Regions from separate parts of the Homo sapiens genome. Here all the other regions are linked to region 3. Evidence: fine-mapped expression QTL. A gene starts in region 3. Each other region holds a variant in brackets. All regions are shown on one strand. Distances are from middle to middle.

What was found. PIP is the estimated chance that this variant, and not a neighbour inherited with it, causes the effect.
Region 1: its variant is the best candidate, but not a certain one, in a credible set for the expression of CITED4 in subcutaneous fat (FUSION, PIP 0.69).
Region 2: its variant is the best candidate, but not a certain one, in a credible set for the expression of CITED4 in whole blood (INTERVAL, PIP 0.70).
Region 4: its variant is the best candidate, but not a certain one, in a credible set for the expression of CITED4 in esophagus mucosa (GTEx, PIP 0.52).

The regions. Positions count from the first base shown.
Region 1 is chr1:40,926,446-40,933,785 of GRCh38, reverse strand. No RefSeq gene overlaps it. Among named protein-coding and RNA genes, the nearest start is that of CTPS1, 50 kb to the left of the region's middle. The variant G/A (reference allele first, on the strand shown) is at 3,184.
Region 2 is chr1:40,887,562-40,894,901 of GRCh38, reverse strand. No RefSeq gene overlaps it. Among named protein-coding and RNA genes, the nearest start is that of CITED4, 29 kb to the right of the region's middle. The variant T/C (reference allele first, on the strand shown) is at 3,794.
Region 3 is chr1:40,858,636-40,865,975 of GRCh38, reverse strand. It overlaps CITED4 (Cbp/p300 interacting transactivator with Glu/Asp rich carboxy-terminal domain 4), which reads left to right and starts at 3,613. Exons shown (of 1, transcript NM_133467.3): 1 at 3,613-4,922. The coding sequence starts at 3,849. The coding sequence ends at 4,403. LOC124904157 (a long non-coding RNA gene) reads right to left here and starts at 3,592. Exons shown (of 3, transcript XR_007066025.1): 1 at 2,866-3,592; 2 at 1,581-1,808. RefSeq lists enhancers at 1-253, 254-803, 3,227-3,286 and silencers at 3,387-3,586, 3,747-3,826.
Region 4 is chr1:40,895,607-40,902,946 of GRCh38, reverse strand. No RefSeq gene overlaps it. Among named protein-coding and RNA genes, the nearest start is that of CITED4, 37 kb to the right of the region's middle. RefSeq lists a silencer at 136-430 and an enhancer at 3,700-4,899. The variant T/C (reference allele first, on the strand shown) is at 3,644.

The DNA.
Region 1 (7,340 bases), 68 kb before region 3:
GATTGAAACCTTCAAAGGCTTCCCAATGCTCCTGGGATAAAGCCCTCAATCCTTACATGCCCTGCCAGGGCATGCATGGTCTGCCCCCCTCTGCAAATTCATCTTCTACCTCTGCCTTCTCATTCCCTGCCCTTTTGCCACTCTGGCCTTCTCTGAGTTCTTCCAAAATGCCAAATTATTTCCTGGCTCAGTATCTTTGCACACTCTGTTCCCTCTGCATGGAATGCCCTTCCATCCCCTCTTGGCCTGGCAACTGATGCTTATCCTCAGTCTTAGTTTAAATGGCATATCCTCCAAGAAGCTTTCCTTGAACCGTGGGACAAGCCTGGGCCATCTGTTTTATTCTCCCATTGTGCACTGTACTTTTCCTTCTCAACATTTATCAAAAACATAAATAGGAAAGCATAAATAGGGCCAGGCACAGTGACTGATGCCTGCAATCCTAGCACTTGGGGAGGCCTTGGCAGGAGGATTACTTGAAGCCAGGAGTTCGAGACCAGCCTGAGCAACACAGTAAGACTCAGTCACTACCCAAATTTTGAAAAACTTAGCCAGGCATGATGGCTCAAACCTGTAGTCACAGATACTTGGGAGGCTGAGGCAGGAGAATGGCTTGAGCCCAGGAGATTGAAGCTGCAGCGAGCTATGATTGCACCATTGCACTCCAGCCTGGGCTACAAAGCCAGACCTTGTCTCGAATAAATAAATAAATAAATAAATAGTTACTAGTATAATTGGTCATTCAACGTCTGTCTTTCCTATTAAACTAAACTCTGTGAGGCAAAGCTGTCTATTACAATAACAATCGCTGAACACATCTATAGCTCTTCCTATGTGTTTGGGTCTGTTCTAAGCACTTTTTATGTATCATCTTACTGAATCCTCACAGTAACCCTTCAAGACAAATACTTTTTCTTTCCCTGTTTCATGAGTGAGGAGACTGAAGCACAAAGAGGTCAAGTAACTTGTTCAGGGATGCATAGCTGGTAAGTAGTGGAACCAGGATTCAGAAGCAAGCCGTGTCTCCCAGAATCCTAGCTTTTCCTACTTCCCTTATTGCCTTCCAGGTTTGTTGTGTTTCCCATTATGCCCCCAACATCCAGCACAGGACACATGATAGGTGTTCAATAAATATGGTGGAATGTATGTCTAAGCATGCATTTACTGAGAACTTACTAAGTGCAAAGCACTGTGGAGAAACCAAAAATATGGACCTTACCCTTAGCGACCTTTAACTAAAATCACGAGGAAAACAGATTTTTATTTATTGTTTATTTTTTACCTGACTAAGGAATACAGAAAAGGTTCTTAGAGGAAATGTTTTTTGGTGGTCCCCTGGGAACAGATAGATAGGACTCAAATGGATCTCGGGTGGGGGCAGGGGAGCAAGGGAGGCCAGATGCTGGGGAGGCGAGAGTGAGGGCTGGCAGCCCTGCAGGAATGCTCACTGGGAGGACTGGAAGAGCAAGGGTGGGGCAGAGGACACAGACTGAGGGAGCCCAGGGGAGGGAGTCAGCTCTACCAACTGGAGGAGGGGTCGGCCAGTCTGGGCCTCCTGTGATGAGTAAACAGGCGTTGGGGAGGAAGGGCTTTGTGGAAAGAAAGACCCACCTGTGCAGAGCATGCAGGCAGGAAATTGCAAAGGGTGTTCAGGAAACAAACGCATGTCCTGTGGGATATTAATGGGATTCTACAGTCAAACTCACTTGGGAAATTCTGCACTGAACAAGGTTAAACAAATGTCTTTCCTGCAATGTTCCTCAGAACCCTTAATATGTTAATGTGCATTGGGTCTACAAGGCAGGGGTATATGAGTGACATTTCCAAGAAAGGCTTATTAACTTGACAGCACATTAGTTAGAAAAGGGTGGCAAAAAAGCTGGCGGGTCAAACAGCTTGGGGCGGGTGAGGAGGGTCTGGGATGCCAAGCCAGGGAATATTCACATTAGCTTAGAGAGCACTGGAAGAATAAAAGATTTTTTAAGCAGGGTGGTGACGTAAGCCCGGCTGAGAGCTAGCAAGCTGCCTCCAAAGTCAGTGTGGGGATAGATGTGAGGAAGGAAAGAGATTAACGTGTTGATATAGTTTGGATCTGTGTCCCCACCCAAATCTCACATTCAATGTAATCCCCAGTTTTGGAAGTGGAGCCTGGTGGGAGGTGATTAGATCATGGGGGTAGGTTTCTCATGAATGGTTTAGCACCATTCCCTTGGTGCTGTCCTCTCAATAGTGAGTGAATTCTCCCGAGGTCTGGTCATTTTAAAGTGTGTGGCATCTCCCCCTGACCTCTTCCTCCTGCTTCGGTCATGTGACATGCCTGCTCCCCCTTTGCCTTCCGCCATAATTGTAAGTTTCCTGAGGCCTCCCCAGAAGCCGAGCAAATGCCAGCATCATGCTTACTGTACAACTTACAGAACTGTGAGCCAATTAAACCTCTTTTCTTTGTAAATTACCCGGTCTCGGGTACTTCTTTATAGCAATGCAAGAATGCATAATACATGTGTATTGTTGACTTACTCTGTTCAGCCACTGTGCTAGCACTTCAAGTATATAAGTGCATTTAATCTTCACAACTCTGCAAGGGTAAATGCTATTGTCCCTACTTTAAAAGTTGAGAAAACTGGCCAGGTGTGATGGCTCATGCCTGTAATCCCAACACTTTGGGAGGCCGAGGTGGGCAGATCACAGGAGCTCAGGAGTTCGAGACCAGCCTGGCCAACATGGTGAAACCCCACCTCTACTAAAATTACAAAAATTAGCCGGGTGTGGTGGTGGGGACCTGTAATCCCAGCTACTCAGGAGGCTGAGGCCGGAGAAGTGAACCTGGGAGGTGGAAGCTGCAGTGAGCTGAGATTGCGTCACTACACTCCAGCCTCAGCAACAGACCGAGACTCCGTCTCAAAAAAAACAAAAAAAAATTTGAGAAAACTGAGGCTCTGAGAGGCTGTGGGGCCACCTGCCCACCACTTATTGAAATATGTGTGTTAATTCACTGTGCCTCAGCATCTGTCTACTTGTGGAAATGAGCCAGCTCCTGAATCTAGGTCAGCCAGGGAGCAAAAGTGTGGGCCCGGCTGGGGAAGGAGCTCTGGGTGTGGGAAGAAGAGCTGGCTTCTGAGACCCTGAGCACTGTGGCCCTCTCCAGGACCTAAACCCTGGAACTAGCTGGGGCCTGAGGGAGCC[G/A]GGCATGTAGAGCTCCCCAGAGAGGCTGGAGAATTCACCCATGGATGACACAGGCATCCTCACCCCAACTCCCCATGAGAACAGAATCGGAGGCCCCATGGGCTGGCAGAAGGGACCTTGGCCTTGAAGAACACTTTCTTTGGTTCTCTCCCCTGCAATGCACTGCCTGAGAACTGACGGATGGCCATGGTTCCAGCCAGCTCTGCCACCAACCTGCCAGGTGATTACCTCATGTGTCAACAACATGATCCCTTTTGTTCCTCCCGGCTCTGAATGCCCTCTTCAGAACTCCTGTTCACACAGGTGCCATGTTGTGGAATCCTGGCTCTGGTCCTTCTTTCAGAAATTTTGGGAACTGGTTGTCATGTATCTGACAGATCAGCCTCATCTCATCTCACCTCTCACAACAACTCCATGGTGCCTCTGTTCAATGAGTATTTACCAACTCCCCACCCTTTGCCAAGTGCTGTCCTGAGAGCTGTGCTCACAGAGGTCCATCTTATGAAGCAGATATTGTTATGAACCCCATTTTTCTGATATGTTTGTTTATTTTAGAGACGAGGGGCCTCGCTATCTTGTCCAGGCGCGTCTCAAACTCCTGGCCTCAAGCCATCCTGCTCTCCAGCCTCCCAAGTAGCTGGAATTACAGGTATGAGCCATTGTGCCCAGCTACCCAGTTTTCCAGTATGGAACCTTGCCCAAAGTCTTGCCCTGGGTAAGACTTGAAATCAGGTCCGTCTACACTAACATCCCAGCTCCTGACCACCCAGTGTCACTGCCACCCATGTAAGCCCGGGCTCGGGACTGGAGCCCATGCCTGCTGGAGCAGGGATGGTGAGAGAGAAGGGGGCATGTTATGACCTCACTGTGCCCTGGGGTCATTCTTGGTTCTGCTACCTCCTAGCTGGGTCACATGGGGCAAATCATCTCACCTCCCTAAGTCTCAGTTTTCTCATCTGTGAAATAGCCCTACAGTATTTACCCCAAATATTTGTTGGGAGGATAAAATGACATCTTGAATATCAAGCCTCTTAGTACAGTCAATATTAGTTTCTCCATTTAAAAAATTTAATTTTCCCTAAAATAACCTGCCCCTTCTCATGCTCATTTCCAAAGGCTTGCAATGAGTGATCCAGAAACAAATGAATAAATAAAGGGATTTCCCAAATTCCCTGAACTCTGGTGTTGGAGTTGTGCAGCCTCATGTATCTTTATATGGCCTGCATGACATCAATGATGACTCACATTTCTTGATCATGTAATATGCTCTAGAAACTTTCCTGGGTGTTTTACACACACAGCTGTTACAGACCAGAGCTAGTTGTCTTTTGTTGTTGTTGTTGTTTTGAGACAGGGTCTTGCTCTGTCACCCAGGCTGGAGTGCAGTGGTGCCATCTTGGCTCACTGCAGCCTCGACTTCCTGGGCTCAAGTGATCCTCCCATTTCAGCCTCCTGAGTAGCTGGGACCACAGGCGCATGCCACCATGTCTGGCTAATTTTTTAATTTTTTGTAGAGATGGGGGTCTCACTATGTTGCCCAGGCTGGTCTCAAACTCCTAGGCTCAAGCAATCCTCCCAACTCAGCCTCCCAAAGAGCTGGGATTATAGCCGTGAGCCACTGAGCCCAACCAGAGCCAGGATTTGAACCCACAAAGTCTGGCTCCATGGCCTGTGCTCTTAACCACTCTGCTACTTTGTTCGGGAGGTCCAATGTAAACTTCTGTGTATTAAATTGTGAGATCCCAGAGGTCACAAACCATGCCTTATCTGGGATCCAGCATAGGCCTGGCCCTGAATGAGTTTCAGAAGATTCTTTCATTCATTCACTCACATTCACTCAACCAGTATCTCTGGAGGACCTTTGCAGGTCAGACTCTGTTCTAGGAGCTGGGGATACAGCAAGGAAGAAGGTAGAAAAGACCCCTGTTCCCATGGCAACTACTTCCAGTAGAATCCAGGGTTGCATGGCATTGAGTGACTGGGTGGCTGCTCTTATTGGGTGGTCAGGATGGCCCCTCCAAGGAAGGGATGTTTAGCTAGGACCTCAGTGATAACAGGGAACCAGCCATCTGAAAATCAGAGGGAAGAGCATCGAGATAGAGGGAACAGCAAGTGCAAAGACCCTGGGGTGAGAAAAAACTGGGCATATTTGAGAAACAGAAAGAAGCCCATTGTGGAGTGTTAGTTGGGGAAGGGAGACAGCAAGGCAGGGGCCACATCATGGGGACTTCATGAGCCAGAGGAAGGAGTTTTATTATGTTGTTCAAAGTGCAATAGGAAGCCGTTGGAAGGTTTTAAACAGGAAAATGACATAATCTGATTTTTAAAAAATTAATAGACTTTATTTTTAGAGTAGTTTCAGGTTTATAGAAAAATTGAGCGGAAAGTCCAGAGTTCCCTCTCACCCTCTACTGTGCATACATGCACACATATCACAATTTCCCTTAGTATTAGCATCCTCCATTAGAGGGGTACATTTGTTACAGTTGATGACCCAATACATTATTATTAACTAAAGTCCACAGTTTACATTAGAATTTGCTCTGTATTGAACATGAGTTTTGAATAATGTATGACCTGTGTCTACTATTATAGTAGCATACAGATTAGTCACACTGTCCTAAAAACCCCCTGTTTTCCACTGATTCCTCCCTCCTCCCAAGGCCTTGGCAACTACTTTTTTTTTTTTTTTTTTTTTTTTTGAGTTGAGTCTTCCTCTGTGGCCCAGGCTGAAGTGCAGTGGTGCGATCTCAGCTCACTGCAACCTCTGCTTCCCGGGTCCAAGCGATTGTCGTGCCTCAGCCTCTCAAGTAGCTAGGATTACAGACACGTGCCACCATGCTTGGCTAATTTTTGTATTTTTGGTAGAGATGAGGTTTCACTATGTTGGCCAGGCTGGTCTCGAACTCCTGACCTCAGGTGATCTGCCTGCCTCAGCCTCCAAAAGTGCTAGGATTACAGGTATGAGCCACCGCACCTGGCCACAACCACTGATTGTTATACTGTCTCCATAGTTTTTGCCTTTTCCGAAATATCATAGATTTGGAATAACACAGTATGTAGCCTTTTCAGACTGGCTTCCTCCACTTAATCTGATTTTTTTTTTTTTTTTTTTTGAGACAGCATCTTACTCTATTGCCCAGGCTGGAGTGCAGTGATGCAATCATGGCTCACTGAAGCCTCAACCACCCGGCCTCAAGCAGTCCTCCCACCTCAGCCTTCTGAGTAGCTGGGACTACAGGCACATGCCACCATGCCTGGCTAATTTTTAAATATTTTGTAGAGATGGGGTCTCCCTAAGTTACCTAGGCCAGTCTTGAACTCCTGGGCTCAAACAACCCTGCCTCCATCTCCCAAAGTGCTGGGAGCACTTTGGGAGTGAGCCACCGCACCCAGCTTGATCTGATTTTTTAAAAGATCAAATTGGCTGTATCGTAGGAACAGATTGGAAGGGGACAAAAATAACAAAAGGAAGACCAGTTAGGAGACGAAGCAGTCATCCAGAGGCTCGATGAAGTGGTGGGCCAAGCTGGTGGGGAGAAGTGTGTGGACCCCAGGTGCACAGTGGAGACCCAACTTTTGGGAGCTGCTCATTGAGTGAGTGCAGGGGAAGGTCAAGGATAGGAATGATTGATGATTACATCGCCAGGGTTAAACCAGGCCTGCACAGAGTGGGGTTTTAAAGTGTTCATAGATATTGCTGTGGTTTTTAATCCCCTTAAATACTCTTGTTGTTCTCTTAGAAATTGAAGAATCAGTTCCAGAGAGATCTCCTGGAGGGCCTAGGATCACAGAGCAAAGCAGAAACCACAGCTGTCTCGGAGGACGAAACTCCAGCTCTTCACCCAGAGATAGTCGTGGGCTGGTGGCTTCAGGGCCCACTAGGGCCTTTGTTATGAGTTTTCTCTTCCCAGCGGTCCTTTTATTGCATAATCAATAAACCACTGACAGAAATAAAAGGCTTCCAGATATATACGCTGCTGATTCCCTGCCTGGAAAACCTTCCCCTCTGCCCTCCTTAAAACCTCATGGCTTCTTATTGCACATTGCACCCGGGGGGGGGATATCCACTTAGAATTGAATCTCAGTGAAACTGCTTGTTAACTTACCCTGACCTCTGAGTTAGTTCAGCTTATTTTGGTCTCAAGTAACTACCT
Region 2 (7,340 bases), 29 kb before region 3:
TAGTGATATGGACAACGAAGTCCAGGCTGAAGTGGTCTCACATAGAGATGAGGAACTTATTGGGAACTGGAGCAAAGGTCACTCTTGCTATGCTTTAGCAAAGACACTGGTGGCATTTTACCCCTGCCCTAGAGATACATGGAACTTTGAACTTGAGATAAATGATTTAGGATATCTAGTGGAAGAAATTTCTAAGCAGCAAAGCATTCAAGAGGTGGCTTGGGTGCTTCTAACAACATACAGTCATATGCAGTCACAAATAGATGGTCTGAAATTGGAACTTATGTTTAAAAGGGAAGCAGAGCAAAAGTTTGGGAAATCTGCAGCCTGACCAAGCAGTAGAAAAGAAAAACCCATTTCCTGGGGAGAAATTCAAGCTGGCTGGATAAATTTGCATAAGTAACAAGGAGCCAAATGTTACTCACCAAGACAGTAGGGAAAATGTCTCCAGGGCATTTCAGAGATCTTCCTCAGTCCCTCCCACCACAGGCCCAGAGGTCTAGAATAGAAAAATGGCTTCATGAGCCAGGTTCAGGGCCCCTGCTGCTCTATGCAGCCTTGGGACATGGCACCCTGCATCCCAGCCACTGGAGATCCAGCTGTGGCTAAAAGGGGCCAAGGTATAGCTAAGACCATGGCTTCAGAGGGTGCAACCTCCAAGCCTTGGTGACTTCCATGTGGTGTTGTGCCTGCAGGTGTGCAGAAGGCAGGAGTTTAGGAGACTTTGCCTAGATTTCAGAGGAGGTGTGGAAACATTTGGATGTCCAGGCAGAAGTCTGCTGCAGGGGCAAAGCCCTCATGGAGAACCTCTGCTAGGGCAGTATGGAGGGGAAATGTGGGATTGGAGCCCCAACACAGAGTCCCCACCAGGGCACTGCCTACTGGAGCTGTGAGAAGAAGGCCATTGTCTTCCAGACCCAAGAGTGGTAGATACACTGACAGCTTGCACCATGCACCTGAAAAAGCCTCAGGTCCTCAATGCCAGCCTTTAAAAGCAGTTGTGGAGGCTATACCCTGTAGAGCCACAGGGGTGGAGCTGCCCAAGGCCTTGGAAACCCACTTCTTGCATCAGCGTGCCCTTGATGTGACACATGGAGTCAAAGGAGATTATTTTAGAGCTTTAAGATTTAATGGCTGCCCTGTTGGGTTTTGGACTTGCATGGGGCCTGTGGCCCTTTTGTTTTGGTCAGTTTCTCCCATTTGGAACAGGAACATTTAACCAATGCCTGTACCACCATTGATTTTACAGGCTCATAGGCAGAAGGGACTTGCCTTGTCTCTGATGAGACATTAGACTTAGACTTTTGAGTTAATGTTGCAATGATTTAAGACTTCTGGGGACTGTTGGGAAGGCATAATTAGTTTTGAAATGTGAAAGGACATGAGATTTTGGAGGAGCCATGGGCCAAATGATCTTATTTGGCTCTGTGTGCCCACCCAAATCCCATCTGGAATTATAATTCCCATGTGTTAAAGAAGGGGCCTGGTGGGAGATGATTGGATCATGGGGGCAGGTTTCTCCCTTACTGTTTTCATGACAGTGAGTTAGTTCCCCTGAGATCTGATGGTTTTAAAGTGTGGCAGTTCCCTACCTCACTCTCTCTCTTGCCACCATGTTAAATGTGCCCTTGCTTCTCCTTTACTTTCTGCCATGATTGTTAAGTTTCCTGAGGCCTCCCCAGCCATGTGAAACTGTGAGTCAATTAAACCTCTTTTTTTTCTTTTCTTTTTCTTTTTCTTCTTCTTCTTATTCTTTTTTTTTTTTGTTGTTGTTGTTGTTGTTGTTGATGGAGTCTCACTCTGTCACCCAGGCTGGAGTGCAATGGCATGGTCTTGGCTTACTGCAACCTCTGCCTCCCAGGTTCAAGTGAGTCTCCTGCCTCAGCCCCCTGAGTAGCTGGGAATACAGGCACCTGCCACCACGCCTGGCTAATTTTTGTATTTTTAGTAGAGATGGGGTTTCACCATTTTGGCCAGGCTGGTCTCAAACTCCTGACCTCGTGATCTGCCCGCTTCAGCCTCCCAAAGTGCTGGGATTACAGGCATGAGCCACCACGCCTGGTCAACCTCTTTTCTTTATAAATTACCCAGTCTCGGGTAGTTCTTTATAGCAGTGTAAAAATCGGCTAATACAATATATTTGATAAAAGTCTTGTGTCCAGAATATAAAAAGAACTTCCAAATGCAATAATTAGAAAATAAGTAATGCAAATAGGGGCAAAATACTTGAACAGATACTTCACCAAAGAAGATATCTAGCGACAGGGCATGTTATCTTACACCTATAATCCCAGTGCTTTGGGAGGCTGAGGTGGGAGGATCACATGAGCCCAGGAGTTCAAGGTTACAGTAAGCTATGATCATACCACTGCACTTCAGCCTGGGCAACAGAGCAAGACTGTCTCTGAGCAAAAAAAAAAAGCGGGGGATAAACTAAACAGACCCTGAACCAGACTCTGTTCTCAAGGAGCACCCAGGTTGGTGGAGAAGACAGGTGGGTCATCAATCAGTTCATTATGATCCAGAAAACCAGGGAGAAACAGAAAGTGACAGGACACAGGGTGGAGAGGAAAAAAGCCCAGATCCACTCTCCAGCCCTGGACTCAGAATTAGTTAGCAAATAATATATGCTAGGTGCTGTACATAATCTGCGTCCTTTAAATCTTACCACAAACCCACATGTCAAGTAGCTACCTTTAGTCTCATTTTACAGATAAGGAAAACCGAGGCTCAGAGAAGCTAAGTAGTCCAGGGTCAGACCATTTGTTAAACCTCAGAATCTGGATTCCAGCTCGTCTGATTCCAAAGTCAACCATGCTCTCCTGCCTCCCATTATAAAGTGTTGCGCACTATAATTATATTTCTGAACCTTGACTGAGGGAGAAAGTTTATAATTTTCACTCTTTCCTTCCCAGGAGTGATTCTTTTTTAAGTAAAATAGAGACGAGGCCTCACTATGTTGCCCAGGCTGGTCTTGAACACCTGGGTGCAAGCCATCCTCCTGCCTTGGCCTCCCAAGGTGCTGGGATTACAGGTGTGAGCCACCATGCCCAGCCCCAAGTGTTATTATTCTTTAAATATATATATACTTTTAATTTATTATCAGCTTCAATAAAGCCCCCTAAATAAGCAATGCATCTCATCCTCCAGAAAGACTTCTCAGCGTCCCCAGTCCCAGTGCCCCGAGCTTACCCCAACACAGCACCAGCCCACAGTCAGCTACTAAGTGCCTGTTGACTGGTCTGATTTCCTGATGTGAGTTCCAAGGAGGCAAAATCCATGTCAGGGGCCAGTAGGTCCCAGTAAGTATAAGTATTTGAGGAAGGGAGGAAGAGAGAACAAACTGAAGGCAGGGAAGAATTTTTTTTTTTTTTTTTTTTTTGAGACAGAGTCTCACTCTGTTGTCCAGGCTGGAGTACAGTGGCACAATCTCAGCTCACTGCAATCTCAGCCTCCCAGGTTCAAGTGATTCTCCTGCCTCAGCCTCTCAAGTACCTGGGATTACAGGCACCCGCCACCATGCTGGGCTAATATGTGTGTGTGTGTGTGTGTGTGTGTGTGTGTGTGTGTGTGTGTGTGTATTTTTAGGAGAGACGGGGTTTCACCATGTTGGCCGGGCTGATCTTGAACTCCTGACCTCAAGTGATCCACCCACCTCAGCCTCCCAAAGTGCTGGGATAACAGGCATGAGCCACCATGCCCAGCCTTTAAAACCTATCATCATAAATACCATTGATTGAATATTTGCCCTCTGCCAGGCTCTAGCTCAACACTCCACTATATGCATGGTCTC[T/C]TTTAAACCTCTCAATCTGATGAGATGGATGATAATTTCATCCTCGATTTAGATTTGAGGACTGAAGTTCAGAGAGGGTGTCTCCTGCCTAGGATTGCGCATCCAGGAAATGTTTGCTCTTAACCATTGCACTGCAACTTTGGGGCCACTTCTTCATACCCTGGTAGGAGCAGAGGGATTAATTCATGATGTTGTTGCAAGACATTCTAAATTGTGCCATCCCAAGTCCCCTCAGGCTCTTTGGGAGAAAATACTCAATCTTTCACCACTTCTCAGCCCCATCTGTCCCTTCTTCAGGGTGACATCTGAAGGGGAATGGAGTTGGGGGCTTGGATAGTCTCATGGTTGGGGAAGGGGCCTCTGACCCAGTACTGCTTCCTCTTTCAAGTGTCTGCCTTCTGCAGTGTGGCTGAGGCACACGTCCCACCTGTCCTCTGGGCAGGTCCCCTGGCCTCTGCTGCCCACAACTATGTTCCTGGCCACAGTCTTCACACCCTCTCCTCTGACCCCAACCTTCTTCTTGCCTACCGTCTTCCTGAGCATTTCCATACACCTACCCCCACCACCTCCTGGGGTTCCCTCTTCACACCTCCATCCTGGAGGGCATGGGCTCTGCGAGGCTGCCCCTGGAACTGAGAACAACCCTTACATCAGGGCTATTCAAAGTGTGGTTGGTATTAGAGCTAGGCTCGGTGGCTCATGCCTGCAATCCCAGCATTTTGGGAGGCTGAGGCAGGGGGATCACTTGAACCTAGGAGTTTGAGACTAGCCTGGGCAACACAGCGAGACCCCGCCTCTACAAAAAAAAAAAAAAATTAGCCAGGTGTTGTGGCACATGCCTGTAGTCCTAGATACTCCAGAGGCTGAAGCAAGAGGCTTGCTTGAGCCCGGGAATTTGAGGTTGCAGTGAGCTGTGATCAGGCTACTGCACTCCAGTCTGAGTGACAGAGCTAGACCTTGCCTCTTAAATATATATATATATATATATATGTGGTTCATATCACCTAGGAAGATGTTAGAAATGCAAATTCTCCAGCCCCGCCCTGGAGCTACTGAATCAGAAACTCTGCAGGTGGGGCCCAGGCAGCCATCCCTGTTGAAACAAGCCCTCCAGATGATTCTGATGCACACTCAAATTGGAGAATCACTGCTTTGTCTCATACCTTCCCTCCCTCCAGGGCTCATAGTAAAAAGTCCAGGCCCCACCTTGGCCAGACTCCAGATCTTGACATTGATTTTATTTTTATTTTTAGAGACAAGAGTCTCACTCTGTAGCCCAGGCTGGAATGCAGTGATGCAATCTCGGCTCACTGCAACCTCTGCCTCCCGGGTTCAAGTGATTCTCCTGCCTCAGCCTCCCGAGTACCTGGGACTACAGGCGCACGCCACCACGCCCAGCTAATTTTTGTATTTTTAGTAGAGACGGGGTTTCACCATGTTAGCAAGACTGGTCTCAACTCCTGACCTCAGGTGATCCACCTACCTCAGCCTCCCAAAGTGCTGGAATTACAGGCGTGAGCCACTGCGCCCAGCCCAGGTCTTGACATTTAAAAGGAAGTTTTGGGTATCTCTCCCAACTGTGTAGGCCTTTACATTGAAATTCTGGATTCTGACACTGTTAGGTCTCCTCTACTCTTTCAAAAAATCCATTTAGAAAGGCAAAGCTAAGGATGAGCTGCTCATCTGCTGCTGAATCTGCCCCCGACTGGAAGCAACAGATGCCTCAGCAGCAAGGGTGGAGAAGGCCAGGAACATGGCTGGGAATTCAAAATTCATGGAATAATAGTTTTCTTAAAATCTCTTTTCCCTATATATACAATGTGTTTTCAAGTCTCAGCTCATTTAATCTTCATGTCAACCCCCGGAGGTCTCACAACATCAACCTCACCCCTTGGTGCAACATCAGCCCATGGACCTGGAGCCCATCTGTCAGGTCCTTGTTTTCTTTCATTCCCTCCTCTCATTCTCTGCTGTCACTGCCTATATTCTGAGTTCATTATCCAAATCCAACCACTTACTAGTGTGTGACTTTGTGCAAGTTTACTTAATCTCCTTGTGCCTTAGTTTCTGTAGCACACAGATTCCATAGTCAACATTCAGAAGAATTTACTGGGCACCTACAATACTTTAGGCACTGGGGATATGGCAGTGAAGCAAATAAAGAAAAATCTCTGTCCTTGTGGAGCTGACATTCTAGTGGGGTGAGGGGAGGGGAGGGAAGGGGAGAGGAGAAGAGAAAGATAATAAACCAGAAAGTAAAATATAATTTATAAAATGTTTCAGATGGTGACATGTAGTATAAACAATAAACAGGGAAGGGGATACAAGGTGCCTGGGTAGGGGAGGAAGGTGAGGTTTTGTTTTGTTTTTGAGACAGGCTCTCGCTCTGTTGGCTAGGCTGGAGTGCAGCAGCAGGATCATGGATCACTGCAGAGTCAACCTCCTGGGCTTAAGGGATCCTCCTGCCTCAGCCTCCAGAGTCACTGGGACTACAGGCACGCACCACCATGCCCAGCTAATTTTTTAATTTTTCGTATAGATGGGGGGGTCTCCTTATGTTTCTCAGGCTGGTCTCAAACTCCTAGCCTCAAGCAATCCTCCCACCTCGGCCTCCCAAAGTGCTGGCATTACAGGTGTGAGCCATTGCACCCAGCCAAGTTGTTATTTTTAATGGGGTGGTTAAGGAGGATCTCACTAGTAAGATGACATTTGAACAGAAATTTGAAGGAGAAAATGACACGGATATCTGGGAAGATGGCATTCCAGGTAGAAGGAATGGCAAGTGCAATAATTCTGAGGTTAATGGGAAAGCTGGCAAGGGGGTCAGTGTGGCTGGAGTTGGGGGGAAGCATGTGGGAAGAGGTCTGACAAGGGGCTGGGGAGACAAGGACTGGATCATGTTGGGATCTCTCTGCTATTATCAGGACTTTGACTCTAGGGAGCTGGGAAAAGGTTTGAGCAGGAGGAACCTGATCTAGCTTTGTATGTTAAGGTCACACCAGCTGCTGCGTGAAGAATAGGTCGAAGGGGCAGAGGCAGGGAGCCCATCAGTAATGGGGCCGCTGCAGTAATTCAGGTAGGAAACAGTGGGGACTTGGCCCACCTGGCAGCAGTCTGGAGGAGAGGGGTGAGAAGACCAGAAGGTATGTACCGAAGTTAGAACCGACAAGATTTGCAGATAGATCAGATATGGGAAGTAAGAAGTGGAGGGTGGACAGGGATGACTCCAACATTTTTAGCCTGAGCAACTGGAAAAGTGAAACTGCTATTGACTGAGATGGAGAAGACTGAGAGAAGCAGGTTTGGGGAGATTGTTTTCGGACTCGTTAAGGTTAAGATCCTATTAGACATTCAGTAGAGAAGCCAACCGGCTATTGCACATATAGGTGTGGAATTCAGAAGGGAGGTTCAGGCTGGAGATAGAAACATTGGAGACTTTAGTGTTTTGATGACATTTCTAGAAGGAGCTCATGAGAGAATCTACTTCAGATGGGTGTTGTGGGAATTAGATGAGTTAAGCACCTAGAACATAGTAGGCATTCAATAA
Region 3 (7,340 bases):
TCTAATGGGGTCCCTGGTAAGGCTGACACTTCAGGACTTGTTGCTACAGTTTTAGAAGTGCTGCTCCAGCGTTCTCTCTGCTGATACGGCTTTTTTTTTTTTTCTTCTTTTAAAGATAGAGTCTTGCTTTGTTGCCCAGGCTGGAGTGCAGTGGCACCATCTCGGCTCACTGCAACCTCTGCCTCCTGGGTTCTGGCGATTCTCCTGCCTCAGCCTCCTGAGTAGCTGGGACTACAGGTGCGTGCCACCACACCCAGCTAATTTTTGTACTTTTTGTAGAGACGGGGTTTCACCATGTTGGCCAGGCTGATATCAAATTCCTGACCTCAAGTGACCTACCCACCTCAGCCTCCCAAAGTGCTGGGATTACAGGCGTAAGCCACCACGCCCAGCCCGCTTTTGCCCCAGATACCCCACTTAATACTACAACTTGCTCCCCTCCTCCCCTGCACCCCAACCTCCTTCCTACTCTATTTTTCCTTTTTTTTTTTTGTCTTTTCTCTTTTTTTTTTTTTTTTTTTGAGATGGAGTCTCACTCTGTCGCTGGGGCTGGAGTGCAGTGGCGCTATCTAGGCTCACTGCAACCTCCGCCTCCTGGGTTCAAGCAATTCTCCTGCCTCAGCCTCTTGAGTAGCTGAGATTACAGGCGTGTGCTACCACACCCAGCTAATTTTTGTATTTTTAGTCGAGACAGGGTTTCACCATGTTGGCCAGGCTGGTCTCAAACTCCTATATCAGGTGATCTGCCTACCTTGGCCTCCCAAAGTGCTGGGATTACAGGTGTGAGCCACCATGCCCGGCCTAAAGAACTTCTTAAACATTAGTTACACACACATTTTTTTTTAAATGGAAAATCATCTGGTGGTGCAATGGCTCCCAAATGCTGGTGACCTAAGACCAATGATGGCAGAATAATTTTTTGTTTGTTTTGTTTGTTTTTTTTTGTTTTTTGAGAGAGGGTCTCCCTACATCACCCGGGCTGGAGTGCAGTGGTGTGATCATAGCTCACTGTAGCCTCAACTTCCCAGGTTCAAGTGATCCTCCCACCTCAACCTCCCAAGTAGCAAGGACTACAAGTGCACACCACCATGCCAAGTTAATTTTTTATTTTTTCAGAAACAGGGGTCTCAAACTCCTGAGCTCAAGGGATCTACTTACCTCGGCCTCCCAAAGTGCTGGGATTACAAGCGTGAGCCACTCACCTGGCCTGCTTGTTGATTTTTTTGAGACAAGATCTCTGTCGCCCAGGCTGGAGTGCAGTGGTGCCATCATGGCTCACTGCAGCCTCCACCTCCAGGGCTCAGCTAATCCTCCCACCTGAGCCTCCTGGGTAGCTCAGACTACAGATACATGCCACTATGCCCAACTAATTATTTAACTTTTTGTAGAGACACGGTCTCACTATGTTTCCCAGGCTGGTCTTGAGCTCCTGGGCTCAAGCAATCCTCTCACTTTCATCTCCCAAATTGGGCAGATTTTCCGTCTTTATCAAAGCCCCCACTCACCCACCCCTTACCCCCCACATCTCCAGATAAGTGTGAGGCATGGCCAGGTTTAAGAATTTCTGTGAGAAGCCTTACCTGTAGAGAAAGATTCAGGAGAATAAATTCCAGGGTGTAGCTTTTTACACTTTGCAAAAATGTGACCACACCCATGGTCATTTATCACTACCCACAAGCTCTCAGGCTGACCAGGCAAGATCACCGTCTCCCTTTCACAGAGCAGAAAGCTGAGGCCCTGGGGAATCAAGTAATACTCCCCGCTCAACACTCAACAGTCACAGCTGGTTGGTGGTGGAGGTCACACACCTGTGGGTGGCAGAGATATGATTAGAACTTGGGCCTCTGGCTGGGCGCAGTGGCTCATGCCTGTAATCCTAGCACTTTGGAAGCCTGAGGTGAGAGGGTCACTTGAGGCCAGGGATTCGAGATAAGCCTGAGGCCCTCCTCACTCCCCCACGCCGCCCCTCCCCCCCGCTCCCTTCTCTATTTAAAAAAATAAGAAGAAAGAGGGAAGAAAAGACCTTGGGCCCCTGAATTCTCACTCTAGGGCTCTCCCCTCTACATCAACTGGATAAACCCAAGTTCCAGGAAGTCCCAAGGATGCCACAGGTCGGGGGAAGGTCAGAGAAGGGAGAGAGAGTGTCAAATGCGTGGAGGGTAAGGTTCTGGGAGGCTGTCTCCTGGCCACAGGAAAGACTCCAGTTGCCCTAAGGACTTGGAAAACACATGGCATTCACACGCTAACTCTGGCTGCCTGTGACCTCAGGACAGCCACTTTCTCTTTGTGTGCTTCTCCTTATCACTGAAATGGGGCTGATAATCCATGCCCTGCCCCCAACAAAATACTTGTAGAATGTAAAGCACTTTAAAAGTCCAAGTTATTATTGCTGTTATCAAGAGAAGGCCCTTTGGGACAGAACTTAAATAGCCTTGGCCGGGCGCGGTGGCTCACGCCTGTAATTCCAGCACTTTGGGAGGCCGAGGCGGGCGGATCACGAGGTCAGCAGATCGAGACCATCCTGGCTAACACGGTGAAACCCCGTCTCTACTAAAAATACAAAAAAAATTAGCCGGGCGTGGTAGCGGGCGCCTGTAGTCCCAGCTACTCGGGAGACTGAGGCAGGAGAATGGCGTGAACCCGGGAGGCGGAGCTTGCAGTGAGCCAAGACAGCGCCACTGCAGTCCAGCCTGGGCGAAAGAGCGAGACTCCGTCTCAAAAAAAAAAAAAAAAAGAACTTAAATAGCCTTTCTTTCATCTAAGGGACACTTTTGAGCATCTACCACATACCAGGCACTGTGCTAGGCACTGTGCACACATGCCCTCACTTACCCCTCACAAAGGGTCAGTGCTGCTGTTCTTTACCTTTTACAGATGAAGAAACTGAGGCTCAGCTGAGAGTTGCAATTCATTCCATCATTAGTTCATTCACTCAGCTTTTACTAAAAGCCTGCTCTGGGCCAGGCTCTGGGCCAAGTGCTGAGAAGAAGAAGATGAACAAGTCCTTCAGGAGACGTGCCCATAAATTAATAACAACTAAGTACATGCTTCAACAGACAAGGTGCAGTGGGAACTAGAGGGGGAGCAACAGGCTCTCCTGGGGGTTATGGGAATGGACAGCTGACCTCCTGCGGGGACCCTGCACCGCTAAGGTGCATGCGCCCTGTGTAGCTGTGCAGTCTCACTTTGATCAAGGCTTTGCTGTGTATTTCCAGGAAGCCTCTTCCGCCACTGAGCCTCGGTCTCTACCTGGAAAGTTAAAAGGTTGCGTAGGCCTGACATCCTGCAGCTCTTGGGGGGCCTAAAACTCTGGCCCTCCCACCCCACCTTCTGGTCAGTTCAAGCTCTACCCCAGCCAAGTCCGATTCCGAAGCCCTGAGGGCCAGACCGAATCCCTCCGAAAGTGCCAAATACCCCGCCCCAGGGCGGTGCTCAGAGCCTGGGGCGTGGCCGGAGTCCCAAGGGGCGGGGTTCCAGTGGGAGGGGCGGGGCCAAGACCTAGATGCAGGCGTGCGCGGCCCGCCCAGAAGCGTCTCGCCCAGCCAATGAGCGTCCGAGGGCGGGGAAGCCCCGCCTCTGGGTATAAGAATACGCCGAGCCCAGCTACGCGACGCGGAGGTTTCGGAGCACTACAGGTTGCGGGCCTTTGTGACCCCAGGCTGCGGCCGCAAGGTGCGCAGTAGTGGGCTGGGCCGGGGCACCAGTCGGGTTTGGTTTTGCTCCGCCCGGCCGAGCTGCAGGGACCGCACGGTGCCCGGGTCTCCCGCCGCAGAGCAGCCGCTGGCCCGGGCCGGGGGAGCCGGCGCTGACCACCGCGCGCTGTCCCCGCAGGCAGCCGGCCTGCCGCCATGGCCGACCACCTGATGCTCGCCGAGGGCTACCGCCTGGTGCAGAGGCCGCCGTCCGCCGCGGCCGCCCATGGCCCTCATGCGCTCCGGACTCTGCCGCCGTACGCGGGCCCGGGCCTGGACAGTGGGCTGAGGCCGCGGGGGGCTCCGCTGGGGCCGCCGCCGCCCCGCCAACCCGGGGCCCTGGCGTACGGGGCCTTCGGGCCGCCGTCCTCCTTCCAGCCCTTTCCGGCCGTGCCTCCGCCGGCCGCGGGCATCGCGCACCTGCAGCCTGTGGCGACGCCGTACCCCGGCCGCGCGGCCGCGCCCCCCAACGCTCCGGGAGGCCCCCCGGGCCCGCAGCCGGCGCCAAGCGCCGCAGCCCCGCCGCCGCCCGCGCACGCCCTGGGCGGCATGGACGCCGAACTCATCGACGAGGAGGCGCTGACGTCGCTGGAGCTGGAGCTCGGGCTGCACCGCGTGCGCGAGCTGCCCGAGCTCTTCCTGGGCCAGAGCGAGTTCGACTGCTTCTCGGACTTGGGGTCCGCGCCGCCCGCCGGCTCCGTGAGCTGCTGAGGGCGGCCGGCGCCCGCCCGGCGTGCCGGAGAGGAGAAAGGGCCCGACTGCCCGCCGGACCCTGCACCCAGCGACTGGGCCCCGCGCGCGCCCTCCGCGAGGGTGGAGGCGGCGGCTGTGTGCGCAGGGCCCGGCACCGGACTGGGACCCTGGCGTCCCTCCAGGCCTTGCCTCCTGCGGGAGGACAGTTTGGCTTCACTTCTCTGACCCCAGCCTCGGCCGTAAAGTGAAAGAGACCGGACCAGCTTCAGCTTTCGGACTCTGGTTCTTGGATCGTGTCCTCTCCCCCTCGCCGCCCTCTTCCCCCAATCTGAGCCATTGCAGGCCTCTGCCTGCTGCCCCCTCTCTCCTCGGGATCGGGTCCCCAGAGCCACCATCTCCTGAGCCTCCCACCCCGCTGCCTGGGCCCTGTGGTTGCTGGGCCTCCCACCTCAAGGAGGGGAAGGTTGTACAGCCCGAACCCGTGGAGCAATGCCCTGTCTGGCCTCCAAAACCAAAATAAAACTGGGTCACTTTACAGTCTTGCCGTTTTCATTTCCTTATCACCCCGAGCCCTGACTATATTTAGCTTCCAAAGTCCCAAGGTTGCTGAAGACACTGGATGGCATGGGGGCCACAGTCCCCAGCAGTGCCCAGGAGAGGAAACCGACAGTTTCTTTCAAAAATATCTCGTGGGTTGTGCAATTGTTATGTCACAACCTGGAGGGCAGAGGCTGCCACTGGGTGGTGGGGTAACCCACTGGGCTTCCCAGCTCCTAGGGTAGGGTGGGGGGAGCTTGGTGCTCTGCCAGAGAGGAGCTGGGTGGCACCGAGTTCAGACAGCCTAGCTTTGGACCCTGACTCTCTCCTTTGCCCAAGACACCATCCGTTCTGATTTTTGAGGCGGTTTCCCAGAGGGAGATGGTCCCCGTCTCCTCAGGTAGTTACGCTGCCTTTAGCACAGTGCCAAATACCTGGGCAGTTCTCAGTAAGTGACGGCAATTATTATTCTACAAATTGGTGCTGATTTTATTCCAGGCCCTGTGTCAACCTGGTGCATGTTCTCATGGAATCACAGCCCAGGTGGGAGGAGGTGGGTGATAGGCCTGAAAACAAACTAATCTTGCTGCAAGGAAGACTGTGATGAGTTCTAGAAAACAGTGCTAAGCAGCACTTTGGGAGGCCGAGACGGGCAGATCACGAGGTCAACAGATCGAGACCATCCTGGCTAATATGGTGAAACCCCGTCTCTACTAAAAATATAAAAATTAGCTGGGCATGGTGGTGCGCGCCTATAGTCCCAGCTACTCGGGAGGCTGAGGCAGGAGAATCGCTTGAACCCAGGAGGCAGAAGTTGCAGTGAGCCGAGATCATGCCACTGCACTCCAGCCTGGCAACAGAGCGAGACTCCTCAAGAAAAAAGAAAATAGTTCTGGGGGGGATTGTACAGCCAGGACAATAGACCGGCCAAGCGGGCACACCCAGAGAAGGGAGCAGTTTCAGCTATTAATAGTTGAGGTTGGGGTCAGTTCAGGCTTCAGGGAAGCGGTGACATTTGACGTGATGAACAGAGCCTTGAGTGATGAATATGTTTTTAGGAGAGGAGCCTGTTTCAAGGCAGGAAGGCACACAAGTACGATGAATGTTTGGGGAAGGTGTGGGGTGTCTAGAAGGTACAAGAAAGGTCGAATGGCTTTACGACAACTTCGTGAGGCAAGCACAGTCCTCATTCTACACATGAGGGTTGTGGAGTGTGCCCAGGCCTGGCAGGATTTGGCCTCAGAGTCCTGAGCACCAGCGTGAGTTCCTGGCCACCCTCTGCAGTTCACTCTGGAAAAATCCCTAGGTGCTTCTGAGATGTGGGAGAAAAGCTGGGAAAGAGATTGAAGTCAGGGAGGAGGCCGGGTCAGAGACGCTGCGGTGGTGGGGCATTCTCTAGGAGAGCATGGATTCCAGGGACACTGGAGGGGAACACCAGGCTGAGACCTTCTGTCCCCAGCAGCTGGGCTTGACTCTCAAGCCAGGCTTTTTTGTGGATGTGACCCTCCACCAACCTGTGAGTTCTCCCAGGACCTACTGTGCTCTGAAGCTACCAGGATGGAATGTGGCTGGTGACAGGAGGTGTTTGGCAAATGAATAAAGGTCTCCCTAAGATCATGGGATTTCTGGGACAGGATGAAGAGAGAAAGGAAGAGAGCCTTCTGGGAAGGGACTGGCCTGAGCTCTGGGCTCAGAGGGGCTGGCATTTGCCCACCCCACCGCCCCGCTGCTTTGCCCAGAACCCCAGGCCAGAGACAGAAACCACAGGGCTGAATTAGTACAGGAGGGTTTGACCCTGAGCTGAACACTTCCCTGATTCTCTTCTCTCTCCCCTCAGTTTCCACACCAGTAAAATGGGGCTAATATCCCTGCCCTGCTACATTACAAAGCAATAACCCTCACAATTAGTAAGGAACAAATTCAGAGATGGGTTGATAAGCAGTTGGCAAACTCTGAAGTGCTCTCCATATGGAAGGGATTACAACGAAAACCCCAACACCTGCCTCTTTCCAGAGTTAAGGGGGAAGCGGAGGAGAGAGTCCAGCTGCTGAGCTCTTCCCTCCTGCATCCCTCCAAAAGGGACTGCTGACAAGTTGGACAGCAGACAGATGGACAGGGGAGAAGATGAGGCTGGGGCATCCCACAGCCTGGATCCCCAAATCCCTGATACTGTTTGGAGGCTTCTGACCCTACCATCCCCTACCAGGGGAAGAGAGAGTACGTGTAGAGACAGTGAGGAGAGCAATGGGCTTGTCGTCTGACAGCCTCAGGGTCCAGTTCAGAAGCAACTCTTACTAGCTGCCTGACCTCAAGGAAGCCACCACACCTCCCGCATCTTGGCTCTCCTAAGATAATCACACGAGCTTCCGTGGTGCCAACAGGGTGTCGCTCATGTCTCCCCCAGGGCTGCCTCCTAAA
Region 4 (7,340 bases), 37 kb before region 3:
GAACTAAGGGGCGTATGCCTCCTTCCACGGGAGGTGGAATGGCTGTGAGGCCTATTGAGGGAGAGAGAGAAGCAACGTTCTCTCTGGCCCAGCCCCACGGCTCCCCATTCCCTCCACGTACCAGTTCTGAAGCTATCAGCCCTTGTCCCCAAACCTATCCCTGTATGTGCCGTCTGGTGACGCTGGGGCTGGCATTGGGGCCCACCCTATTTCTGTTCCGTCAGCTGTTTCCAGGATAGGCTCTGCCAATAGGGGACCCTGGAGGGTGCAAGGCGGTCCCAGGAAGAAAGGTCTCAGCATACCGTTCCATCCTGTCACCATCGCCTCAGCGATGGCCCTTCATTCACCCTGGCAGAGGAAATTGGTTCCAGCAGCAAGCGGTTCTAGTTTCTAGGTTTTCCCCACCTTCCCAGAACCAGCCCCACTGTGGCCCCTCGGAGACACCAGCACCAGTTACAGCCATGCCCTCCTCCGGGTCTGGGTCCCAGCTGCTAGGTCCTGACACCTAACTTCCTCCCTTGTTCTCCCTTCCCTAGGGGTGGTGTCTGTTTCCTGCAGTTACTACCTCCGCTCTCATGCCGCCGGCTTTTCCATCTGTCAATTAATGTTTAGTCAGTTCTTTTAAAAACATTTAAAATTTTTTGTTTTTCTTTGTCTCCATCAAAACTCCTGTTGAAATAGTCAATTCTTTCTATTCAATTCCCTCTCTTAAAGCAACCAGTCTGCTTTCTGTGTTCCTGATGAGACTGACTCATACAAACGTCTGACTCCCCTGAGGCCTTTGTGGGTCATGGGTAAGCATCAGAAGTTTCCAGTAGGACACATCTAAGCCCTGAGGAACCTGTGAGAGGCTTGGGGTCAGGATGAGGAGGGCTCAGAGCACACAGCTCTGGCAACAGACACCGTGGCTGGAGGCTTCAGGAGTGACGTATGCCCAGGCCCAAAGCCAGAGAGGACCAGTGACACCAGCAGAGAAGCAATGGGGAGAAGCTGGCACCAGACACCACAGAGGGCAAGGCAGCCCATAGGGCCATCAAGCCCAGAAGCCTAGGCCCAAGCCCATAGGTGTTAGGTAAGGCTCCTCTGCCACCCGATGTGATCCTTGGACAGAAGGAGAAGGCACCACCGAGAGACGAGCAACCCTAACAGCAAGTTCAGATCCTGAGCTGACGATTTTTCCAAACAAGACTAAATATTTTTGTCTAAATTTTTTGGTATTGACATAATTTCAGATTTATAGAAAAGTTGGAAGAGTAAGGCAAAGAATTCTGAATCCCTTCATCCAAATTCCCTAAATGTTAACATTTTACTATATCTGCTATATTCTTCTGTGTTTGTGTGCACATGTGCATGTGTATTTTTTTCTGAAATGTTTAAAAGTTGTCCACATAGTGCCCTTTTGTTCCTAAATACTTTAGTGTGTATTTCCTAAAAACATGGACGTAACCCTACATATCCACAGTATAGTTATCAAACTTGGAGAATTGGCCGGGCATGTTGGCTCACACCTCTATAATCCCAGCACCTTGGGAGGCTGAGGCAGGAGGATCACTTGAGGCCAGGAACTGGAGACCAGCCTGGCCAACATAGTGAGACTCCCTATCTTAAAAAAATTTTTTAGGCCGGGCGTGGTAGCTCACGCCTGTAATCCCAGCACTTTGGGAGGCTGAGGCAGGCGGATCACCTGAGGTCAGGAGTTCGAGACCAGCCTGACCAACGAGGTGAAACTCTGTCTCTACTAAAACACAAAAATTAGCTGGGCATGGTGGTGGGCGCCTGTAATCCCAGCTGCTTGGGAGGCTGAGGCCGGAGAATCACCTGAACCTGGGAGACGGAGGTTGCAGTGAGCCGAGGTTGCACCATTGCACTCCAGCCTGGGCAACAAGAGCAAAACTCCGTCTCAAAAAAAATTTTTTTTTAACACGAAAATTAAAAATTGGAGAATTAACATTATACAAGACTATTATCTAACCTGTAGACTTATTTCAGATTTTACCAATTGTCCCCAAATGTCCTTTAAAGCAAAAGAAAATGCACGCTCTCCCACTGCATTTAGTTGTCATGAAAAAATACATTTTAACCCAGAAATAAATCAGGGGAAGAGGAGTTGTGATCGCGTTGGGTTCAGTTGTGGAAGGAAAGTTTTATTTCTGCAAATCTGAATCATACAGTATAAATGCTGACCCTGCTATGTTAGCAATTAATAATAGCGTTGATGATAATGGTAATAATAGTTCATGACCCTTTCTGTCCTGGATCTTTATCTGTTTGAGATACAGTTGTAGTCATTTGGCATCAGCCAGTTGCTCCATGAAAAAAAGGTTTATTGAGACAATGTAGCATACGGCAAACACAGAAGTTGCAGGGTTAGACAGACCTGGGTTGAAAACTGGCTTTGCCTTGCTGGTGGTATGACCTTGGACATGGTTTGAACCTTACTGAGCCTCCGCTTCCTTGCCTTTAACATTGAGAAGGGGTAGGATCTGGAGTCCAACAAATCTAGGTTCACATCTTTGCTCTGTGCTTGCTAGTTCTGGGCCCTTGGGCAAGTGCTTTCATCAGGTTGCATTTTGGTCTGCTCATCTGTAAAATGGGCACCTTGCTGGGATATTGGGAACAGAGATGATTTTTGTATGAAATCCACCTGGTTCATAGTAGTTCTTAGTGAATGGCTATTTTACTTTATTTTTTGATAGGATCTAATTCTGTCTCTCAGGCTGCAGTGCAGTGGTACAATCATGGCGCACTGTAGCCTCGACCACTGGAGCCCAGGTGATCCTTCTGCCTCAGCCTACTGGGTAGCTGGGACTACAGCCACGTGCCATCACGCCCAGCTAATTTTTGTATTTTTTGTAGAGTCAGGTTTCACCATGTTGCCCAGGCTGGTCTTGAACTCCTGGGCTCAAGTGATCCACCCACCTCGGCCTCCCAAAATGCTGGAATTACAGGCATGAGCAACCACACCTGGCCATTAAATGTTAATTGTATCAGCCCTTCCGAGTTGGGGCATGTGATTCTTCCTCTGTGAGCCTCAATTTCTTCATCTGTAAAACAGAGCCAGTAGTACCCATCTTTTGGTGTGAAGAATGAGAAGTGAAGGTGGAAGGGCTTGGTGCTCTGAAAAGCCTGGTGCCTTGTGGCCCTGGCAGAGTATGTGATTGGTGGGGCAGTGACAAAAACAGAAAGTGCTTTGGAATCCTGGGGCCTGCCAGGAATGTGGGCAAACCTGTTCCATCCACTGCTGCCCCAAGCTCCAGACTCTCCCATCTTCTCCCCCAATCAGGTTCCCTCCCCCATTCTTTGGGTGCGTCTTGGCTTGTCCTGCCTGTCTTCTTCTAGGAAGCCACTCAGTCCTGCCTCAAAGAAGGGAGGAAGGATGTCACCTTGTCCTGGGCAAGTTATTGGGCAAGACCAGGCAGCTCCAGTGCTAATTTAATGCTGGGAAGAGAGTCGGGGAACCTGCAGCTCTGGCCAGCTTTCCCCCAAGGAATCCCAGCCCTACCAGCCTCCTCCCTGTCTCTGGCACATACCAGTTCACAGCCAGATCAGTAGAGCAGAGGTGTACAATGGGGAGGCTCTGGCCTGAGAAGAGGAAGCCCCTGAGAGCATTCAAAGGGTCAAGAGAGGACTAAGGCAAGACCTC[T/C]TGGGTAAGAGGGCCCCAGAAAGAGAGCCAACCCTGGGACCAGCCAAGGGAGGCAAGAGGTGGGTGTGTTTCCAGAGTGGACAGATGTCCATTCGACCTCCTGCCTTGATGGTGGAGTCGTACAATGGGCCAGGCCCTGTGCTGAGCTCTTGACATGATACACATTATACTTATCTTATGGAACCCTCATATGTCCTAGGATCCCAGGGCCTATCCCCCTTGGATAAAGGAGGAAACTGAGGCCCGGAGAGTGACGCTTCCAGTTCCAGTTGGTGTCTGCTCAGGGGTTGGAATCTGAATTGGCTCAACTCCAAAATCCATGTTCAGCAGGTTTTCTGTAGGATGGAGAAGGATCAGGAGCTAGGCCCAGGGCTGTCCCTAACTTCAAGGGCTAACATTTTTCTGGGTGTAACCCTGTGACCTTGCCAAGTTACTTATGTATTCCTTCCCCTGCACTGACACATTCTAGGGATCCCGGAGTGGGCAGGGACTGTCCACATCATCTAGCCCTTCTTAAACATATCTGTAATTACAGGCCCTTAGGTGCCTTCTCCCCACCCAACCTGACTGTGGGTTCTTCCAGGCACTGAATCCAATTACTCTATTTATCTGCCCACATACCAAGCAAATGCCAGGAATGCATTTGGTGTTTATTGAATGAAGGCACGAATGAGGTGGAGTTAAACCTCCTTGCTTCTCAGAGGAAGCACTAAGACCCAGCGAAGGAGGGAAGGGGCTTGCCCAAGGTCACTGTCCAACTTCCACCCAGGGTACTTTCCCTTCTATGACTCAGTCCTGGCATGGGCCCAGGGTTTTGCCAAGAAGGGCTGCCTTTGGGGAGCCCCGTGGGAAACCAGAGACCCCATCTGGCCCTTAAAGCTCTTCCTCTCTTTAAGATTAGGAAAAAGGTCATAGCAACCCAAAGGAGGCGGAGCAACTGGAGTTCAAGACATTCACCTTAAAAGGTACACTCAGTTGCCCCTGCGTTTGGACTTTGCTGACCTGGAAAAAAGAGAACTGCATAGTAATCCATTTGTGTTCCATCTCGTCAAAAGTATAGCACCTGTGGGGGCTGAGCTGGTGTTTCGTGGGATCATGATGATTCTCTGACTTGAAGTGCAAGGACTGGGAAAAAATTCCATGTCTGTAAGAAAATGAATCCTAAAGATTCCAGTGTTGTACCTTATCCATTGATATATTCATTCATTCATCCATTCACCCACTCATTCATCAATGTAGTATTTCCCAAATGTCACTCATTCCTGTACTACTTTCATCATTTTTTATAATCTGTAAGATATTTTTGCTTTGTGTTTTTCTTTATTGGACTATTTTACTTAAATAAATTTAGCCTCAGCCTAAGCAACAGTACAGTCTGTTTAAATATAGCTATTACAATAACAAAATGTTTGTCCATGTATCACCTAAAACCCTCTTCTGTGCCACCTTGGATGTATCTGCATTCACTCATCCTCTCCTCTCTGCACCTCAGGTCCCACAAGTGAGCAGTGGAGGGCATTCGGATGCAATGATCTTTCAGCCCTAACATTCTGGAAGTCTGATTCAAAGAGTCACACCCAGCAAAGGAAAACACAGAGACTAGACGGAATCAGTGAAGAGGTGGCTGGTCAAAAGCAGCACATGTATCGTGTTTTCAAAGCTCAGCAGTGACTCAGGAAGGCAAGACAGGAAGTCCCTTGGGAATGGTCTGTAAACCAGGGCGAGGGACTAAGAAAAACAGGTAGATAAGTCCCCAGGAGCCTTAAACAGCCCCCAAAGCATGAGCTACACATATGTCACTAGACTCTGTCAGAACCTTTCAGAGCTGGCCAGGCATGGTGGCTCACGCCTGTGATCCCAGCACTTTGGGAAGCTGAGGTGGGAGGATAGGTTGAACCCAGGAATTCGAGACCAGCCTGGGCAACATAGCGAGACCTTGTCTCTACCAAAAATAAAATAAATAAATAATTTAAAAAGAGGCCAGGAGTGGTGGCTCACACCTGTAATCTCAGCACTTTGGGAGGCCCAGGCGGGCGGATCACCTGAGGTCAGGAGTTACAGACCAGCCTGGCCAACGTGGCGAAACCTCATTTCTACTAAAAATACAAAAATTAGTCAGGCATGGTGGCAGGCGTCTGTAATCCCAGCTACTCAGGAGGCTGAGGTGGGAGAATTGCTTGAACCTGGGAAGCAGAGGTTGCAGTGAGCCGAGATGGCGCCGCTGCACAGAGCAAGACCCCGTCTCAAAAAAAAAAAAAAAAGTAATAAAGTAAAAAATAAAAAGAACCTTCCAGAGTTTCTAGAGGCACTAAGACACTAAAATGCCAGAGAAAGCCATTTTACCCCTGAAGAAGCTCAGCACTGGGAAATGACTGGGCAGAAACGTGGCCCACCTGGCCTGCTCCTAGTCCCCAGGACCGGCCAAACTGAAGTAGGTTTCTTCAGTTTTCTTCAGGTTTCTTCAGTAGGTACCTGCTCAGCCCACAAGCCCAGGGAGTCTCCTGGGTCCTTGGTTCTTCTATGCAGCCCAGCCTCCTTGTCCAGTTAACTGGGGCAGAAGCAGGTACCTGACTCACAGGCAACCACTCTAGAGGCCAGGCTGGGCCAGTCAGATTCCTGAACTTTGGAATTAGGACAAGGAGAGGCCAGACTGTTTGCCACAGGTCCTGGTTGGGTAAGGAAATGTAGATTTGCCAAGGAGGGCTGCTTGGGACACGTGTCTGAAAGACAGAAAGGAAATTGGTGTTTTGAGAGAAGTGGACGGAAAGGTGGGCATTCCCCCAACACCAGTCCTGAGTGTAAGGTCCTTGTGCGACTTGCCTGCCCTTGAGATCTGTGAGATAGTTCTAACGCCTTATATTGAATTACATTTTTTGCTTAAACTAGCTGGAGTGGGCTTCTATTTCATGTAAACAAATCAATCACTGATATAGTGAAGCCCGTCCTTCAAAGTTTCCCAAATTAGACTTGGCAAGTCGGCATAATGGTAATGATGCTAATGACACCCCTGACATTTGATTGGTGTTTTATAATTTAAAAGTCCCTAACATAGGGGTCATCACTCCAGCCTGGGATGACTTGCCCCAGACCTACTCATGCTCCAGACTCTTGGGGAACGGCATCACTCCTAAAACTCTCAATGTCTTCAACAATAAAGTGGGGTTAATAAAGCCTGTTTTAAGTGGTTGTTGCAAGGTTTGAATGTGGTATGCAAAGTGTTTAGCACTTTGGCACACAGTAAAAGTGCTCAGTATGTGGTAGCCATAATAGTGATTTATTATATAAAGTACCTAGATGAGGCTAGACACATAATCACTAATCAAAAATTATGTAATATAAAGTGCTTACTGATCAGTGCAGAGGGTTTGACTTGACCAGACTTAACAGGATCACTTGTAAAACAAAGGAGTTTTAGTTGATCACAAGCTTTATGTGAGTCAACAGAAACCATCACAAAGCTAATGTGATCTCAGGCCATATTAAGAAAAGTTTTATCTCTAGAAGATGGGAGATGTTAGTCATGTCCACCTCAGTCCCTATCAGACAACACCTAGTGGTGGGGAGGGGGCGGGCTCTAGGAAGAGGACCTGTGACCTCACAACTTTCTAAGAAAAATAAAATTTCTTTCTTGGCAAGTATGCTTGCACATATAGAACTCAAAAAACATTCCTCTATTTTTTTTTCCTTTTTCACTTAT